Linked DNA regions of Homo sapiens. The protein of the gene in region 3 interacts with the protein of the main gene of each other region in a pairwise test. Each region holds a gene or a part of one and is shown on either strand. Other genes may lie near its edges.

Region 1 (3,500 bases), on a different chromosome or scaffold from region 3:
AAAGAGAAAGGGAAAGTCCTGAGGAACTCACAGTGTCACCACGAAGCAGTTTGAGTCCTCAAAACAGATATTTCAGGTACTCAGCCCAGTGAGACTCATTTCCTTTTTGAAGTTAACCAGTTTCTGGTGGTCTAATACACAGATGTCTAACAAAGTGAAAGTTTCATTCTCATGGATATTAGGACTAAGGGGAGTATTAGTAACACTTTGGTATTAACAATGGAATGTTGGGCCAGGGGCAGTAGCTCACACTTGTAGTCCCAGCTACTCAGAAGGCTGAGGTGGGAGGATCACCTGAGTCTGGGAGGCTACAGTCAGCCATGATTGCACCACTGCACTCTAGGCTGGATGACAGAGTGAGAACCTGTCTCAAAAAAAATCAAGGAGAGCATCTGAACACTCTTAACTCACCCCATGTTTCTGTGATGATTACAGAGAAAATAATCAAAGGCAGGCTATAAGTGATAAATGAAGCTGGAGGGGTACACTTCTTGTGAGATCATGATTCCATGTCTCAACCATCTCTAACTTGCAGTGCAGTGTGCCCTGAACCGCCCTGCCTTCTTTGCTGAGAGGCTCTACTATGCTATGAAAGGTGCTGGCACAGATGACTCCACCCTGGTCCGGATTGTGGTCACTCGAAGTGAGGTGAGGCAGGCCTCTCTCTTTTTGTCGGGTCTTACTTGATGTTCAATGTTGATTTCTTAAAAGTTCCCCAGTTGGTTGTCAGTCCCTCAAAAATGATAAGAAAGAGCTCTCTTTGCCACCTAAAAGAGGTGGTATAAAGAACAGAAAATTCACTTTCCTCATGCTGTGGGAGAAGCTTGCATTAGTGAAATAGGCCACTCTACCCTAATGAAGATAATACTAACAGATTTTACAACTTGAGAACGTCAATGGAGAATACAAATTTATGGGAAGTTAGACATTTGTCTTTCGATTTTCATTTTGCTTATATAAAAATTAGATGAAAGGCCTATGTAGATTAATCCTAGTGGATATCAACATTATTTAAATTTAGCATCCTTTATTAATAATAAAACAATTTTTAAAATATTCATAATTGTCTCAAGTATAGCCTCATTTTTAAAAATTGTACTTTATATATTTACTCCACTTACAAAAAATTTTTTTTCTCAGAAGAAATGACATTTGAATTTTTTTTTTTTTTTTTTTTTTTTGAGACATGGTCTCACTCTGTCACCCAGACTGGAGTGCAGTGGCACGATCTCAGCTCACTGCAACCTCCACTTCCTGGGTTCAAGCAATTCTGTCACCTCAGCCTCTCGAGTAGCTGGGACTACAGGTGTGCGCCACCATGCCCAGCTAAGTTTTTGTATTTTTTTGGTAGAGATGGGGTTTCACCATGTTGGCCAGGCTGGTCTCGAACTCCTGACCTCAAGTGATCCACCTGCCTCGGCCTCCCAAAGTGCTGGGATCACAGGCGTGAGCCACCACGCCTGGCCTGAACTTTTAATTGAAAGAAAACATGGCGGGGTGTCGTGGCTTACTCCTGTAATCTCAGCAGTTTGGGAGGCCAAGGCGGGAGGATTGCTTGAGCCCAGGAGTTTGAGACCAGCCTGGGCAACATGGTGAAACCTATTTCTACAAAAAACACACGCGCGCGCACACACACACACACACACACACACACGCCGGGGCGTGGTAGCCTGGGCAACATGGTGAAACCTATTTATACAAAAAATACACACACACACACACACACACACACGGTGAAACCTATTTATACAAAAAATACACACACACACACACACACACACACACCCACACCCACCCCCCGGCATGGTAGTCCCAGCTACCCAGAATGTTGAGGTGGAAGGATCACCTGAGCCTGGAAGGTCAAGGCTGCAGTGAGCCGTGATCGCACCACTACACTCCAGCCTTGGTGACAGAGACCCTGTGTCAAAAAAATACCCTAAATTATTATTATTATTGCGTGTTTTTTTTTTTTTTTTTTTTTTTTTTTTTGAGATGGAGTCTCGCTCTGTCACCCAGGCTGAAATACAGTGGCATAATCTCGGCTTACTGCAACCTCTGCCTCCCGGGTTCAAGTGATTCTCCTGCCTCAGCCTCCTGAGTAGCTGGGATTACAGGTGCGTGCCACCATGCCTGGCTAATTTTTTTGTGTTTTTAGTAGAGACTGGGTTTCACCATGTTGGTCAGGCTGGTCTCGAACTCCTGACCTGATGATCCGTCTGCCTCGGCCTCCCAAAGTGCTGGGATTATAGGCATGAGCCACCACACCCGGCCAAAAACCCTAAATTATACTAAAGAAGGTAGATTATTTTTAAAGAAAACAACCAGAATATGGTATTTTGAAAAAAACTTTGTTCTTTAACTTAAATTTTCAAAGCAGGATGTTTTAAGTTGTGATAAAATATACATAACATAAAAATTTACCATTTTTAAGTAGCAGTAAGTACATTCACATTGTTATGCAACCATCATTACCATTCACCTTCAGATGTTTTTTCAACTTGCAAAACTGAAAATCCATACTCCTTAAACAGTAACTCCCCATTCTCCTTTCTCCCAACTGCTGGCAACAAACCATGTGACTTTCTGTGCCTGTGTTTGACTACTCTAGGTACGTCATATTGGTGGAATCATACAATATTTGTCTTTTTGTGAGTGTTGTCTTTTACTTAGCATAGCGTCCTCAAGGTTTATTCATGTTATAGCATGTCAGAATTTCCTTCCTTTTGAGACTGAGTAATTAAATAGTCTATTGTACGTGTATCCCACCTTTTGGTTTTTTTTTTAATTCATCTGTGACACTTGGTTTGTTTCTGCCTGAATAATGCTGCTATGAACATGGATGTACAAATATCTGTTCAAGTCTACTTTCACTTATTTTGAATATACCCAGAAGTGGAATTTCTAGGTCATATTGTAATTCTTTGGAAGTGTTTTTGTTTTGCTTTGAGGAATTAACCATATTAGTTTCCACAGCAGCTGCACCCTTTTACTTTTCCATCAACCTGTGTACAAGTGTTCCCATTTCATGGCATCCTTGCCAATACTTACTATTTTTTTGGTTTTGATAATAGCCATCCTATCAAATGTTTTTAAATGACTAATATCTTTGGAATAATAGATGAAACTAGTACTACCCTGACCAAGTATTTTACAGAGCTGTGAATCAGACCTTCATTGGGTAGTGCTAGCATTGGTATGAGTGCCAGCCATAAAATGTCAGTCACTTGGTGTTTTCCCCCCCAAGTTTTGATTATTATTAAGATCTTATTATTTAAAAAGAATTTTAAGAAATGTCAGTTGTCACAGATGTTTTTCTGACAGAAATATTATTTCTTATGCAGATTGACCTTGTACAAATAAAACAGATGTTCGCTCAGATGTATCAGAAGACTCTGGGCACAATGATTGCAGGTGACACGAGTGGAGATTACCGAAGACTTCTTCTGGCTATTGTGGGCCAGTAGGAGGGATTTTTTTTTTTTTAATGAAAAAAAATTTCT
Region 2 (3,500 bases), on a different chromosome or scaffold from region 3:
ATCAGTTTGCACATTCTAATCACTTTCCAGTATCACAAGAGAGATTTTTACTTATATAATAGTCCTAGAGTTTGCAGCTGGTAAAACCAGAGGCTACATCCAGTATTACTGCTAAGAGACATTCTTCATCCACCAATGTTGTACATGTATGAAAATGGTGTACTGTATACTTTAACATGCCCCATACTTTGTATTGGAGAGTACAATAATGTAAATCCTAAAAGCACCACTATTTTAGCATAATAAAAGAAAGTCCAAAGAGCTCCTATATAGACTACTCCAGATAACTTCGCTTCTTTGATACTTGTAGCTTATTGTAATTTTTTTTAAGAAATTCAAGGTCATTATTATTGTACAAAATAAGCGCTTTGATTAACACAGCTATATAGTTTTTTTAATTTTTAAAAAACCTGTGGAGACGGTGATCTTGTCTTTAAAACATGATAGTCCTTTCAGTATAATGTCTTAGATTAAAGACGTTGCCTTTAATATCTGTTGGGAAGGAAATGTCCAGACTTTTCAAATCTCTTATTATATGTTTCCTTTTTTTGTTTACATAGGGAACAATGTTTATAGTCGTGTGTACAGTGGGGGTCTACAACAAGAAGTGTATATTTTCAAACAATTTTTTAATGATTTAACAATTTTTGTAAATCATTTTCAGGCTTCTGCAGCTGTAGATTCTCACTGTGAATCCCTTGCTTGCTCATGCATAAGTGTATTTGCAATACCAAATATACAGGTTTAGTATTTTTGCCTGTTAGTGATTGTTTCACATGTGTAACGTTTTGGTTGAGATGTTAAATGGTGGACGAGTACTGTGGATGTGAATGTGGGAAGTAATTTTAATCATATGTAATTGGTCACAAGGCCTAATTTGCAGTAACTATTGCTGTTTTATTTAACAATGCCTTGTTGCTTTGTATGCATTAATGTTTGGATGTAAAGATTGTGTGTCTATCCAACAGGGAGCCACAGTATTTAAATTGACCAACCTAATGTTACAACTACTTTGAGGTGGCCAAATGTAAACTAAAAGCCTTAATTAAAGTGGTGCAATTTTGTATAACTTAGCATCAGTAGTTCAATAAATTTGGATTGCCATGCAAGGGCTTGCATTATAATTACTTGCCACTTGAATGTGTTTTGTGTAATGTTTTAACAGTGCTAGTAAATAAATACGGGTTTACCCTGGTTTTAATTGTAATAGGTGCATTTTACACAGCATGGTTTCATAATTTAACATCTGGGCAAGCCAGACTCATTAATTACAGGAATAAGGAAGTAGCGAGTTTTCTGGTATTGTTTGAATATCCACATAACCACCTTTTGAACTTTTCCTTGAGAAATAATTTTGTAAATCAAGCAGTATTACTTACGAATAAATGCCTTTGGGTAATGTTCAGTAGCTATTTGATGAGGTAGGTAAAAGAGGAACGATTTAACATACTTTCATGGATGTTACACTATGGATTTTTTAAAATACAGGATTGAAGTTAGAATATTGTGGTTATAAAAATCTTTGAGTGATGTGGATTAAGCACTTAGAGAATCGATATTTTTCTTAAATATGCTATAATTGAATTCTGTAAGAACTGAATTCTTATAGAATTATTTTAAAACTTTTTAAAAATTGTAAAGCTCTTAAAAAACTTTTTGAAAGTATTTGCCAGCTACTGGAGCAATTAATCAGTGATAATATCTAATAGAGGGGTATCTGCTAATCCCCTAAATACACGCTGTTTGAATGATACATTTTTAAAGGCTTTCATGTTAAGAAAAAGTCTGATTCTTTACAAAAGGGACTTGTTTTGGCAGAACTGGTTTTATTTATAATCATTTGGGAAAAAAATTAAGCCCAAAAAACTGGGACTGTGAAACACTAAAATTACTTCAATTTACTATGTCCTGTTACATCCATTGATACCGCCATTATTCAATAATTACTTTTAATAAATGTTTGCTGCCTACCAGCTATGTACCAGGCCCAGTTCTAGGCTCAAACAGCTAAATATTCATTCATTGGACAAATTAAGTACTTAAGTATAAAAATTGTTCTAGGCCTAAGGATGTAGCAGCAACCAAGATCAACTATAAAATGCTGCCCTCCTAGAATTTATATTCTATTGAAGAGTTTCTCAGCCTCAGCACTATTGATGTTTTATGTTTGATAATGTATTCTGGCGACTCTCCTGTGCATTATAGGAATTTTAATATCTGCCCACTAGATGCCAGTCACACCACCCCAGCCCCCAAGTTGTGGCAACCAAAAATGTTTCCAGACATTGCCAGATGTTCCCCAGTTGGATTGTTGGGGGACAAGGGAGGTGAACTTGGAGGGCAAAATCACCCTGGTGAAGAACTACTGCTCTGGTGGGAAACAACACATTAGTTACAGATGAGTGTTAGGGTTACAAGATGGATGGTTTACTATATAGTGAATAAGAATATAAAGTTTGGAGCCAGACTTCCTGGGTTTTTAATCCCAGCTCTTCCAGTTCCTACTATATGCCTTTGGTTGGGTGCCTTGGTTTCCTCATCTGTAAAATGAGAATGATAATACCTACTTCATAGGAGAGTGAAATGAATGCCAGTGCTATCCTCTAGGTCTATATATATATATATATATATATATTATATATAGTACATATATAGAGAGAGTATATATATATATGTAGTACAGTGGAGGTCTATATAATACTATATATATAATTTATTTTTTTCAATGCTGATAGGAATAAGGCTGTGGTTTGGCAAAAAGCACCATTTTCTCCTATACAAAATAGTAACTGCAGTTTGGGAGCACAACTCATGTAGATTGACTTTTCTGGTGCTTAATGGGAAAATACTAAAATAATTGAGTCAGAAAAGGCATGAATTCCTTTTCACGTCCCCAAGGATACTTGAAGAAACTTGAGTTTTAGGAGAAAATCAGAGTGGTCTTTCACTTACATTTTTCTAAAAAGTGTAAAAACCCTGTATTGACTTTCTTGTTGATTCAGTTGTTTCTTAAACGTAAATAGCTCATCTTTACCATATGTGGGCATTACAAATAGAAATTTTTAAAATTCCATTTATAAAATGAAGTTTTGCCGTTTTTTTTTTTAAATCATTCCGTCTTTAGTTGTGGGACAGCAAACTTAGAATCGAAACTCATCACTACAACTTTTCTTTGAGTTAAACTCTTATCTGTGTTTTCATTGAATTTAATCTCCATCTATTCTATCTCTTCTTAAATCTTGGAAATGTAAAAGGGAGTTATAGTGTTTTACAATTAATACTCTTACTATTACCTTAGAAGCCTTAAAAGTGCTTGCAGGCTTGTCTCATAATCTGTCAGTGAGCCTTAACATTGTGATTTGTAAGACTAAAATTTTTTTTTCAAACAAAACAAATCTGACAGCCTGGGCAACATAGACCCCATCTCTACAAAAAAAAATTTTTTTTTAATTAGCTGGGCATGGTGGTGCACGTCTGTACCTGTAGTCCCAGCTATTCAG
Region 3 (3,500 bases):
GCTTGGGGAAGTCTTTGCTGAGTCTTGCTAATGATGTGTCTGTGTCTCTCTGCAGACTGTGAGCTGCTTGTCCCCATCCTGCGGCCGTCCTGGGGACACAGAGCCCTCCGTGGTGCCCGGGGATTGGATTGGAGCCAGGACCTCACTTCCTCCTCTGCCCCTGCCCCTGCCCCTCCCAGCACCTGGCCCACACCCTGCAGCCCGCCCCATGGTCTGGCCCTGGGTGGCGATGGCGTCCAGGTGGGGTCCCCTCATTGGCCTGGCTCCGTGCTGCCTCTGGCTCCTGGGGGCAGTCCTTCTGATGGACGCGTCTGCACGGCCTGCCAACCACTCGTCCACTCGAGAGAGAGTAGCCAACAGGGAGGAGAATGAGATCCTGCCCCCAGACCACCTGAACGGGGTGAAGCTGGAGATGGACGGGCACCTCAATCGCGGCTTCCACCAGGAGGTCTTCCTAGGCAAGGACCTGGGTGGCTTTGATGAGGACGCGGAGCCGCGGCGGAGCCGGAGGAAGCTGATGGTCATCTTTTCCAAGTAGGTGCCGCCATGTGCCCAGACTGGGGGGCTGTCCGCGTGCGCTCGCCTGTGTGTTCCTATCCTGGCTTTGCGCGGTGGGGGGCGCCGGGCCCTGTGTCGGGACCTGCCGGGCTGGGAAGACGTGCCGGTGATGAGCGCCACTTCCAGCCTGCTGTGTTTGCGCGGAGGCCTGCGCTGGCAGCCCAGAGCCGCTCCTTGAATGCCCTGGGTCCGCCGGGGGCTCAGAGGGCCAGAGTGGGCCTGTGTGGCCGTCCCTAGGACAGCCTGGAGGAGCCCACGCGGCACTGCAGTGGTCAGCGTCCTCCATGCTGAGGGGCAGACGCCGGCCACGGGCAGCCTCCGCAGGCTGCAGCCCCAGTTGGACGAGGCCTGGCTGAGGAGTGAGGGGCTGCCACAGGTGGCTGGAGAGCTGGTACAGGGTGCTCTGGGCTCCTCCTGACACGCCCTCTACCCTGTGTGTTTGGGGTCCCTGTCACACACGGGCCGCGTATCACACGCAGGCTGGGGGTGTGTGGGGTTGGCTTGTTTTGCTGGCCTGGTCGGGAGCAGAGCTGTGCTGTCAGTGGCCCATCCTTGGCCGTCACTGCCCCCACCCTGCTGAGTCCCGAGACCCTCTTGCTGCCTCTGTGCCTAGTGCCGAGCTTTCTCCCCCGACCCCATCCCTGAGTCTCGAGAGCCTGTTGTGAGGGGTCCAAGATGGGTCAACCTGACCACTCACCCACAAGGAGCCAGGTCCTGCACGGGCGCCTTACTCCTTACGGCACGGCCGGGGTGCCCTGCGGTGTGGCCCTGGAACCTACTTGCACTCAGCGCTGGCCTCACCCCTGGAGGCAGAGCAGGGTCAGGGCGTGCCCGTGAGTCCCCCAGGCCAGCCAGGGTGCCGGGCAGGGAGCCGAGGTGCAGGTGAGAGAACACCCTGGGCCTCCTGGGACCTGCGAGACCTGGGCACAAGGAGGCAGCCCCCGCCGCAGGGCCTGGCCACGAGCTCACCTTCCCGCAGGGCCTGGCCACGAGCTCGCCTTCCCGCAGGGCCTGGCCACGAGCTCGCCTTCCCGCCGGGCCTGGCCACGAGCTCGCCTTCCCGCCGGGCCTGGCCACGAGCTCGCCTTCCCGCCGGGCCTGGCCACGAGCTCGCCTTCCCGCAGGGCCTGGCCACGAGCTCGCCTTCCCGCCGGGCCTGGTGCTCCAGGACCAGTGCAGAGGGGCAGGTGGCAAAGCTGGTGAGCAAGGGGATTGGGCAGGGCTGGGGTCCTGGGGTGCAGGAGCAGGTAGGAAAGGTGTGAGGACTGGTCTGGCTGTGCCACGGCCCTTGGGCTGAGGGCCAGGCGGGAGGGCCCTGAGGATCCAGGCTTTCGGGCGGAGCACAGGTGAGCTGGTGGGACGGAGGCACGGTGCCAGCTGGAGGACCTGGGCACCAGGTGTGGTGTCCCCTTGCACCTCTCCTCAGATGGTACGGTTCGGGGGTCCTTGCGTGGCCTGAGTTCACTTGGTGGTGAGCTGACCAACCCACGAAGAGGCTGCTGGTGCCCCTGGGGCCTGTCAGGTTCACCACCCCTGAGCTCACGAAGGCCTGGCTCGCGGCATCACAGGGGAAGGGTCCCCGTCCCTGCTCAGCCGGTGCTGGGGGTGGGCTGCACGCCTGGGCGAGGGGAGTTGAGGCTTCTGCTCGGTGCGTCTCCAGCTGGACCGGGGTTTCTTTTTGGTGCCTGTAACGAAACCCCAAGCTGTCTCGTTTGAGGAGGTGGGCATGGGGAGTGGGAAGTAACAGCAGGTCTCCGGGTCTCCCTGACTCCTGCGCCGAGCGGCGACAGCGGCCGCTGTGGGTGTTTAGACTTCCCTTCCCACACGCGGGTCCCTTCTCGCCCTTCTCCTGCGTAGGGCCCCGTCCCTCCAGGACCCACGTTCACTCAGCTGTCCTGTCTCCTCTGTCTCCTCTGGGCTGGAACGGTGTCTCAGACTCTCCCGTTTTTGTGAGGACGTAACAGTTCTGAGAAGGGCTGGGTAGGAGGTTTTAGGCTGTCCCTCAGTTTGGGCTTGTGGGATGTGTTTTCTCCTGACCGTACAGGGTTGAGGGTTTCTGGAAAGAGCCCCCAGAGGGGAGGTGCCATGTTTCCTCCTGACCGTACAGGGTTGAGGGTTTCTGGAAAGAGCATCCAGAGGGGAGGTGCCCTGTCCTAGGGGCTTTTGAGCTTCACTTCCTTCCCGCTTCCCTGCACCACGAGATGCTCCAGGCTTTCCTTCCCGCTTCCTGGCACGGTGAGATGCTCTGGGCTCGCCTCCGTGCCACCTGCCCCAGTGCAATAGCTGCCGCCTTTCCAGGAAGCCCTGTCTCCCGTGGCTGGAGCTGGAAGCCAGGGTCTGGGCACTGGGCGTCTTGCCCTTGTTCTCTCAGGAGCCAGAACTTGATAACATGCGTGTGTGCACCAGCCCAGTCACATCTGTGTTCTGCCAGCCCTGTTCACGTGTGTGTGCTGTGTACACGTGGGTACCGGCCTGTGCACTTGCGTGTGTGCGTGCCAGCTCCATGTACGTGCACCGCCCTGCAGCCGTGTCTTCAGGCACCTGAGTTTGGATGAGTGACTCCTTGCCGACATCTTGACTGGAATCCTGCGCCATGTGGTTTCTTTCCACCTTTTTGCTTTTTGCTCTGCCTCGTGTGTGTCTGTGTCTGTGGAGTGTGTAGAGCGTGTGGAGTGTGTGGCCCGTGTCTGTGGCATGTGGAGTGTGTGGCCCGTGTCTGTGGCGTGTGGAGCGTGTGGCCTGTGTCTGTGGCGCGTGTGGAGCGTGACCGGAGCATTCGAGGATGCACGTGTCCACGTGAGACCCACCAGGTGCCCCACCTGCCACATGGCCACCCGGGTGGCCCCGTCCCCAGCCGGTGTGTTTTGGGGACTGTGGAGCTGAGGGTGCCTCCCAGGCCCGTCCACCTCTGGGCTGCTGCGGCTGCTGAGGGAGGGGCGCGT
Region 4 (3,500 bases), on a different chromosome or scaffold from region 3:
CATAATGCTGAGTAGTAGCCATGAAAGTAGATAGTCTCAGAAGTGATGCATACAGTTGTGTGGGTTCTATACTGCACAATTCTAGGAGATACTCTTTACAAACACTTAGATGTCCTAGGAATTCTTGTCATGTTCCTGATTTCCATTTTTATTTTGTACTATGAACTCATTTGGAAACTTCTCTTTGGGACTTGTTGAGATTGAAATTGTTTTCCTCTAGAGGATTTATTTTTGCTTTTGCCAGGAACCTGAGGACAGAACTAACTGGGACCACCATAAGCTTGGGGTCTACTGGCCACACAAATAGTGAGAATCCTGACCCAAACTTACTTGATTGCAGGCCTGTTGTTAAGAATTTCAAAGGAGACTTTTCTTTTTGCTCTACCCAGAGCCAAGGCTGAGAAGGCCTGGGATAGACCTGTCTCCCTCCATGGTTTCTACTGAGGATGTCACCCTTAGGGGATCTTGAGTTTATAGTCTATGATCTGGTTAGGCTCCAGGCTTTGTCTCCTATTCTACCATTAAAATCCAGGCCCCAGGCCTACAGGAGTCCAGAAAACTCCAGGATGATCATGACTTCCCTTTCTCATGCCTCTGGCTTAGCATAATCTTATAAATTTTGGCCTCTTGAGACTTCCTTTACTTTCCTACCAGCTCAATCCTGCATGAAAAATGACATTCTTAAAAATTTAGTATTTCTAGGTGCTGCATACCAGGAGGATTTTCTGTAACCAACTTCTCCATCATAGTGCCAGCAATAAAATCTTTATTTTTTATTTTAATGAGATTGATTCTAATGCTTCTCCAATAAGATAGCTAGTAAAAGTGTTTAGTAACTATTCCATATCAAGTTAGTGAAGCTCTCTTCTATTCCTCTTGGTTAACCAAGAATTTTAAATCATGAATGAATATTGAGTTTTATTAAATGCTGTTAAGCATTGATTAATTTCCTTATCATATCTCCATAGTTAATTATATAGCTCATCCCAAGGGTGATAGAAGCAGAGATGATCCAATAGCCACTAGGACCCTTGGAATGCAGACCCATGATTTTTCCATTAAAAAGAACAATAAATTCAGGGAACGTGGACAACATTAATTCAAATTCTTAGTGTGGTTGCCACGTTCTGTTTGTTGAGCCATCAGACTCTTGCCCTCACACTTCAGATATTGGTGTCCTGGGCACAACCTGGGGAGGACAGGAGGAATGTGTAGGGAACCTCTCTTGCATACAGGGGCTTTTTAGGTGGCACAATTTGAAGGGGGCTGGGAAAAGTTCCCTGCAACACCTCCTGAACCTCTTTGAAACATCGATATAACAAACTGAATATCCAACTGGAAATTGACATAAAGAGACATATCCAAATCCCTCATGTAATGTTTGAAATAATTTTCCTGGATCTGTGTAAGTTCCAAAGAGTCAAACTATAAAACCACAGGCAACACTGGCACTACACATGCATTGATAAGACATAGGCAGTTAACTCAGAGGCCACTGTGTCCTGTTAAATATTGGAAGAGGGTACTGTGTGTACTTATGACCTGGGCTGGTGCCAGCTCTCAACCCTGATCTGTGTCTAGTAACCTTCTGACCTCTTGGATCTGATGACCAAGTCCCAGGAAGCATAAAGGCCAATTTTCATTTATGGCCCCCTGAAGAGAGCAGCTGACTTCTCTTTCTTGAATTCATAAACCGTGACTTTGGCTATCTGAGTTTCCTCTGGAGGCCTGCCCCATGCCAGGGCCAGTGAGGAGGTTTTGTTAATAATACTTGATTTGTTTCATAAAGAATTTAAAACATATAGCCTCATTTTGCCCCCATGAATTCTGTGAAAAAACAACTTGCATCATGTATCTATTTACATGACAGGAAGAATCAGAATAAGGGAAAAGAAAAGATGTTCTGGCCAGGCATGGTGGATCATGCCTGTAATCCCAGCACCTTGGGAGGCCGAGGCAGGTGGATCACTTGAGGTCAGGAGTTTAAGACCAGCCTGGCCAAAATGGCGAAAACCCGTCTCTACTAAAAATACAAAAATAATCCAGGTGTGGTGGCACACACCTGTAATTCCAGCTACTTGGGAGGCTGAGGCACGAGAATCATTTGAACCCAGAAGGTGGAGGTTGCAGTGAGCAGAGATCATACCATGGCACTTCAACCTAGGGGACAGAGTGAGACTGCCTCCAAAAAAAAAAAAAAAGTTCCGTCATTAATTGACTTCATGAACTGGAACACACCCCAGAGCCCCAGTTTCCTCATTTGCAAAAGGGATAATAAGAACTGCCCTGCCCCCGACTCCCTTATTCAACTTGGGATAAGCCCTGCCCTGCCTTCCTCACAGGCACCTTGACATGAAGTTGTAATTTTGAAATCATTTTGTAAACAGCAAAACTTGTGCAAATGTGAGTTAAATTCACCAAACGTCTCCCTTCACTGAACAACGTCAATGGTTTTATAGGCATCACTTGCCTGCATCTTAGAAATTCAGTATTCTTATATTACATTCCCCTTACTTGCTTTTTTCTCTTTATCCTCTGGCCAGTTCTGCTATTAATATGTGTGTGTGTGTGTGTGTGTGTGTGTGTGTGTGTGTGTGTGTGTGTGTGGTGTGTATGTGTATCTTGGAGATAGTAGGATGATTATATATATATTTAATTATGCGTGTGTGTATATATATGTGTGTATACACACATAATTAAATATATGTAATCGTGTGTATGTATATGTATGTATACACACACACATAATTAAATATAATCCTGCTATCTCCAAGAGTTTCTATCCCAAAGATTATGATTTTTGTTTTTTTATCCATTTACCCCCTTTTACTTAGACTCTGTTGCTTCAAATTCAAGTTGCCCACTCTTCTCTTCCCATAATCTCAGTGACCTGGTTCCAAAGCTTGTGCTTTGACTCATTTGAAGACTAAATTTATCTGTATGTCCTCCCCACATCCTTTTCCTGGGAAGGAACTATCTCACCCTCAAAGTACATTGACTTTTTAAAAAATTATTATTATTATTACTTTAAGAGACAGGGTCTTGCTGTGTCACCTAGGCTGGAGAGCAGTGGTATGATCATGGCTCACTGCAGTCTCGAACTCCTGGGCTCAAGTGATCCTCCCGCCTCAGCCCCCCAGAGAGCTGGGACTACAGGTGTGTGCCACCATGCCCAGACACTTTTAAAATTTATTTTTGGTAGAGACAAAGTCTCATGTTGTTGCCCAGGTTCATCTGAAATTCCTGGCCTCAAGTGATCCTCCTGCCTCAGCCCCCCTAAGCATTGGGATTACAGGTGTGAGCCACCATCCCTGGCCATCATTATACAAATTTATTTATTTATTTTCATTTGATTGAGACAAGGTGTCATTCTCTTGCCCAGGCTGCAGTGCAGTGGGACAATCATGGCTCACTGTAGCCTTGACCTCCTGGGCTCAAGTGTTCTTCCTGCCTCAGCCTCCCAAGTAGCTGGGACTACAGGCACATGTCACCACACTTGG

The links.
Region 1: the proteins of SDF4 (region 3) and ANXA7 interact in a two-hybrid assay, tested with the Homo sapiens proteins (one large-scale study listed by BioGRID and IntAct).
Region 2: the proteins of SDF4 (region 3) and RAP1B interact in a two-hybrid assay, tested with the Homo sapiens proteins (one large-scale study listed by BioGRID and IntAct).
Region 4: the proteins of SDF4 (region 3) and NR1I2 interact in a two-hybrid assay, tested with the Homo sapiens proteins (one large-scale study listed by BioGRID and IntAct).

What each region holds. Positions count from the first base shown.
Region 1 is NC_000010.11:73,376,059-73,379,558, reverse strand, and holds part of ANXA7 (annexin A7), read left to right. Parts: intron 1-535; coding exon 536-648; intron 649-3,341; coding exon 3,342-3,464; 3' UTR 3,465-3,500. UniProt on the Homo sapiens protein: Calcium/phospholipid-binding protein which promotes membrane fusion and is involved in exocytosis.
Region 2 is NC_000012.12:68,659,399-68,662,898, forward strand, and holds part of RAP1B (ras-related protein Rap-1b isoform 1 precursor), read left to right. Parts: 3' UTR 1-3,500. UniProt on the Homo sapiens protein: GTP-binding protein that possesses intrinsic GTPase activity. Contributes to the polarizing activity of KRIT1 and CDH5 in the establishment and maintenance of correct endothelial cell polarity and vascular lumen.
Region 3 is NC_000001.11:1,225,502-1,229,001, reverse strand, and holds part of SDF4 (45 kDa calcium-binding protein isoform 2 precursor), read left to right. Parts: intron 1-55; 5' UTR 56-208; coding exon of another isoform or gene 209-229; coding exon 230-534; intron 535-3,500. UniProt on the Homo sapiens protein: May regulate calcium-dependent activities in the endoplasmic reticulum lumen or post-ER compartment. Isoform 5 may be involved in the exocytosis of zymogens by pancreatic acini.
Region 4 is NC_000003.12:119,785,101-119,788,600, forward strand, and holds part of NR1I2 (nuclear receptor subfamily 1 group I member 2), read left to right. Parts: intron 1-3,500. UniProt on the Homo sapiens protein: Nuclear receptor that binds and is activated by variety of endogenous and xenobiotic compounds.